2 separate regions of the Homo sapiens genome follow, and region 2 is linked to region 1. The links come from fine-mapping of genetic effects on gene expression. Tissue or cell type: hypothalamus. Region 1 holds a variant in brackets; the other region holds the start of a gene. All regions are shown on one strand. Distances are from middle to middle.

Region 1 (2,934 bases):
GCAAAAATTTGAAAGAAGTAAGCTTTGAGGATATTTTTAATGAAAGCATTAAAGGCAGAGGAAATGGCCAAAGCAAAGACACTATGCTGGGAGGATATCTGGTGTCTTCAAGCAACAAGAAGATCATTGTAGATGAAGCAATGTGAGCAAGGGAGAAAAAGTGACTTTTGGGATCAGAGAGATAGTCAGGGAGTGGGAGGTAAGTGTAGGGATTTGTAAACCATGATAAAAAATTTCATAATTTACTCAGAGAAATGGGTAACTAACAGCGTTTTGAGCAGATGAATGATATGAAAAGATTTCTATTTTGACAGGATATTCTGCTTGCTGGGTGGAGGTTGGAATGGGTTTGGTCTGGGTTGGGGAAATTTAGTAACAGACAAAGCAGAACCAGTTTGAGAAACTGTTAAAATTTTAACAGGTATTGGTGGCTTGGGCCAGGGTAATAAATACTGGTGAGAAATGGTCAGATTTTAGGTATGTTTTGCAGATGGAGCCTGCAGTATATGCTGACTGATTACAAAAAAGTCTGTTCTTTCCTCCTTTTTTCTACAATTACTTTATCTCAAAACTCTGTACATTAGTTACCACTTTCTGTAAACATCTTTAATATTTTCCATCTTCCTTGATCTCTTGACCAACATGTACAGAATGTCTTCAGTTTGTATTTATTATTAAAAACAAAACAAATAACAACAGCAAATCTCATTGGAGATTTGATCATCCCTAAAGTTACAATTCCATTTTATTCATTTATTCATGGAGGTATTCCCTCAGAAAATGTTGGTTGAGGGCTTACATAATGGAGGCACTATGTTTAGGGTTTATTCACATGGTCATTTTTCTTTAAGTCTCTGCACTTCCATGTTTATGCTCAAGCTTAGTCCTAAAACTCTGCCATCTTTACTGCAATTTTGGTATGAAAATCCCTTATAGGATTTTCTGTAACATTCACAGTGACTTGTCATATGACTATAGTTCAAATGTCCCTCATTCAATAACTTTTACTATTTTTGGCACTTTCTTGGCCAAAAAGACTCTTTTCCTCCCATATTGTTTTTCTCTGCTCATACCATACTTCTATTCTAAATAATAAAAAGTAATTGAGGAAAGAGAGAATTTAAATTTGCTTTGTAAATGGGATGCATCTATATTGGTTTAAATGAGAGGTTTCCTTGAAGAACACACTCCTACCCACTTACTCCCCAGACTTACCCTCCTGCCTCATTAGTGTCCATTCCATATTGAGT[T/C]ACTAAAATTTACACATAAGACATATGTGAAATATGCAACATTTTCCAACTCGCTTTCACAGACTTCTTAGAGAAATCAGGCTGTTTTTTTCTATGAATAGTTTAAAGCATTATAGCATGAAGTAAAATAGGTATACTGTGGTTTCTACACATATAAGAAAATATCTCCCTGTGGTTTTCACTAAGCTGAATGACAGCTAGCTTAGGAATGGAAAACGAGTTTAAGTGCTCACAAGGCTTAGCACAATGCTCCTTCAAGGGGAAGACTACGGGCCATAGTAGATGTCAGTGTGAGAGAGAAAGTGGCGAAAGAAAATTATTTTTTAAGACAATTTTATCTATTGGAAAGAACAAAACCTGGAGCAGGATAAGCCTATGACAAAACTGGAGTAAGGGAAATGTGCCTCTGGTGCCTTTAGCTTTCTTATTTGCTGTGTTTGTGTTTTTTCCCCTCCATTCTTGAACTCTCTAGGAAACTTAGGCTCTTTCTCCACTCATTTTTAACCAAATATGTTCTCAGAGAGTCTGCAATTTCTATGAGAAAACATGTCTCTAAGTATGCCATGGGATACTCACAACAGCATTTGCATCTTGAGTGTCCTCACTCATACAGGATGGAGAACATTTGCTCCTTGGTATCAGAGAAAAATGAGGAAAGAATTCATCAATGGAATCTTCCTAGCATCTCATAAGTTGTAGCACATTTGTAAATTCTACTTCTATATATTGCTCTTTGCTTCATCCACTGACCTTTCCCTTCCAAACCATATAGAGTCCCTGTCTATAATTCCTATTTAATGATTAAACCCCCCTTCTTATTCAACCGCTTCACTAAACACTCCATTTACTGTTGTTTTCTTAAATTGAAACCCAATTCCCTCCTAAGGACATTTCTACGCCATATCTCTCTCAAGTAAAGTTTCTTATTCTTCCATATCACGTGTTTCACAGGACACAGAGATGGAGGTCAGCAACTCAACGCTGCTTCCAGGCATATATCACACCCTTACATACAAAAATGTGAAAATTAAAGCTCTGACTGAATTTAGACTCATGGAATCTAGTTATCCCTCTATCTTTTAGCTTCATTTATAACTACTGTTTACTGCCAACTTCTGGATAAAGAACTTCTGTCTATCCCAAGCCCGGCTATCATTCTGAGTGAATTTAGTGCTTGTATAAAGGACAGATGAGTACCAAGCTTCTTTCTTCCCCCCAGTTCTAATACATTTTAATGTTCCTATTCCTGGTCACTTACTCAAACTTGATCAGCCTCACATAAGGCATCATTATTTCCAATATCAAAATCTCTCCTTTTCTGCCAGCTTCAGGCACAATTCTCCATCTATCTGCTACTTCACCTAATATACACATTTATTATTTAAACTTGTTTATTTTCTTCTAGTCTTTCACTTCATTCTGCACTCATTTATGTATTCTGAATCACATAGCCAATATAGAAATTTCAGTAATCCAATATTCAGTAGATATTGGTAGGAAAGAGGAATTGAGGTGAAGAAATGAAATTTTTTATCCAAATAATAATGGAAAATTACATTTACTATCTGATCCTAAGTTATTCTTACCTGCACATCTTTTAGATTTACCAGATGAGTATAGGCTCTTGTAGAACTCAGTACAGAAGAGCTAGAACTTCCTGGACAAAGAAGGTACAAGAAGAAGA
Region 2 (2,934 bases), 27 kb after region 1:
AATTCATTTTCTATTTTTTTAGTAACATATCTCTTAAAAAGCACACTACCTTATAAAAAACTTCATCAGAAATTAAATTTAATGCAAGTAAATTGCCATCTGATACTTCCACATGCTATCATAATCAACTGTAATAATAAAAATGATTTATCCAATTAGAAAAGGACAAGATATATTTTTCTCTGTATTTCTATAACTTTTGCCACTCCATTGAATACATTGTATGTTGGACATAAGATTATTAGTAATGCATTCTTGAGATCTTTTATTTTGGAATGATGCTAACTCTGTCTCTTTGCCAATTCTAATACCAGGTTCCAAGTAATAACTCTACAGTACAAAGAGAACTGAATATTCATTCTAGGGCTATAGGATATGAACTTCACAATTCATTTGGGTACATTCTCATTGAATTTCCTTCAAAACAATCTGTTCCTGGTGCCCAGTGATAATTCAGTCGGGACCAGCATGACTAAAAGGAAGGGGATATGCTAAGGCTCAGCAAAGTGACCCTAAATGAGAGATATGTCCCAGGATGGAAAGAAGAAGACGTGGTTTAACCAAGTTATACTGACTAATCTAAGCAGTCCACTCATCCTTCCATTTTGGGAAAGGAGTGGGGGCAGCCTAAGAAGAACATATCTGGATTGGGAAGAACCGTCTTTCTGGGCTAGGGATGGGGAACAGAAAGGGAGTATGGAAAGAAAAATTATAAGAGATTTGACTGAAGCAAGGAAAAAAAGCAAATCCCCAAACGTGCTAATCCTTGAAAGTAACTATCTTTCCCAAACTACTGCTGTTACCAGCAAGTGATCAGGAAGACTAGGAGCTATTTCTGACTGTAAATGAATTGTATAATAGCTCTGCTGCAGTTCTGTGACTTCCAAGCCAGGAATTAAATGCTCTTTTTAAGAATAACAAAAAACAAAAGCATTTCCTATGCTAGTCTCCCAGTAAAATGTACATGTTTTGGAGACTTCAAAGGTATTATGTGAGTTCACATTTAGCAACAGCTTATTAATAACCCTCAAGCTGTCAGAATCTCTATAGTTACCATTTACAATTTTATACTGTGAAAAAATACAGATCAGTGAAAGCATAAAGACAAGTCAGAATTCACTTTGAAGAGGGTCTGAGGCCTGGGAGAGTCTCTACTGTCTATTGAAGAATGAGGCATGTATAAAATAGTTGGTTGAATTTCACTGATCTTCCCAATGTGAACAAATATACTATGTATATTGTGTGTATTTCTAGAAATCAATGGCAGCTGCTGATGGTGTTGTAATTAGAAATCTATATAGATTATAGATGTTTTAGAAAGATGGTGCCAATCCTAAAAGATTTGTGTGGGCTAAAAGTGCTTGTACTTACTTTTTTCTGCACTTATAACTGATTTGGTTTTAAAATTGTGTGCGTGTATCTGTTCTTTCTCTGTTGTGGCAGCTTGTACTATTAAAATAATAGAGAATGTTAAATTATTTTGATGTGAACTGCAAATGATTTTTTTTCATAAAGTTTAACATTTTTATCAGCATTGTTTTGCTTTGTACTTGTATAAATATGTTTTATTTTAGCACTTCAAAATATACTTGCCTGTTTCTCAGTTGTCTAAATCATGTTGTACTTGGTGTTTGTGAAGCCAGTTACTTTTCAAAAAAATTAAAAAACCTATAATATGATTTTAAGATTATTCCCCTCAAATGTTTAGAATGTTGTCTTAATAGTGTTTTCTGAGATGAAAAGAGCCATGATACTAATTAATCTTGAATACTGGATGATCTATACATTTGAATTATGGGGTTTACAAAGTAAGCAGTGGACTGTATAGATTTAAATGAAAATATAAACCAACCACAAACCAACCAGAGATGTTGTCCCCAAACACATCTACAAACAACTGTTACATAAAGAAGTACTTAAAAAAATATATAGGAAATATGCATTGTTTATGCATCTAGACATACAAATTATAGAAATAGTTTCATAATTATATGTGTTGATAGAGGTAACATCACACAGATAAAATAGATTATTTGTGTGTGTATAGATGTGTGTTTACAAACATACATATTTATATAGACATTTGACTTTTGAGTCCATCTGCATGTGTCTCTGTGTATATGTGTGTTTGTGTGTAGATGTATGTGCATATTACATAATTTTTCCAGAAAAAAAAAAAGTTTTACTTTGACTGATTCTTGAGCAAATATACATTCCCTGGACACAAATTAGTGAAAAACTAACAGCAGAATATAAGGTAGATGCTTGATGTATGGAAGAGAAAAACAAGGTATATTTAAAAATATATTTGATTTATGCTTCTGACATTGTATTAAATGCATAATGATATATATACATATGTAGATACATATATTATACAGAATGTGTTTGATCTTAACAAAGAAAGCCATTTTATCTGTTTTGTCAGACTCTTCCCTTCAGTATCTTTTATTCTAACGTGATATGAATGGTAATATGTTCACATAAAATTGAGGATGAAGTGACATATACAAACCAGGTACAGGAAATTACCTTCTAAAAATCCAAAGAGCCTTATCAGACTCCATCAAATTATGGAAGGCCATTTAAAACCAGCGGATGCAATAGAAATAGCATTGAATTAAAAGCCAGGATCTCTTACCTGTCACCAACTGACTTTGGATAAATCACTCTGATTTCTCTACAACTTGTTCCTCTTGCTTTAAATGCAGAAGTGAGTTACAATAATCTGTGAAGTTTCTATCATTTCAACATTCCTGATAAATGCTCAATAGTAGCTATTATTAGTGTCAATGTAGTATTTAGTATACAGTTAATATTCAGCAGGAAGCTTAAATTTGTTATATCAATGTTATTTGTGGAGCTTAACAAGTTCCTGTCCAACTTAAAGCATATATCCTGGAGGAAACCTATTGAGGTTTGAACTCATATGCA

Which allele goes with the higher level. Positions count from the first base shown, and alleles are read on the strand shown. Sizes are in standard deviations (SD) of each study's normalised expression.
For the expression in hypothalamus of the gene that starts at base 1,679 in region 2, allele C in region 1 goes with a lower level than allele T (small effect, 0.39 SD a copy in GTEx).

What was found.
Region 2: GRM5-AS1 starts here. The variant in region 1 is fine-mapped to the expression of GRM5-AS1 in hypothalamus (GTEx, PIP above 0.99).

What each region holds. Positions count from the first base shown.
Region 1 is chr11:88,530,456-88,533,389 of GRCh38, reverse strand. All of the region lies in intron 8 of GRM5 (glutamate metabotropic receptor 5), which reads left to right. Among named protein-coding and RNA genes, the nearest start is that of GRM5-AS1, 27 kb to the right of the region's middle. The variant T/C (reference allele first, on the strand shown) is at 1,251.
Region 2 is chr11:88,503,321-88,506,254 of GRCh38, reverse strand. GRM5-AS1 (GRM5 antisense RNA 1) reads right to left here and starts at 1,679. Exons shown (of 6, transcript NR_049724.1): 1 at 1-1,679. GRM5 (glutamate metabotropic receptor 5) reads left to right here. Exons shown (of 10, transcript NM_001143831.3): 10 at 1-1,613.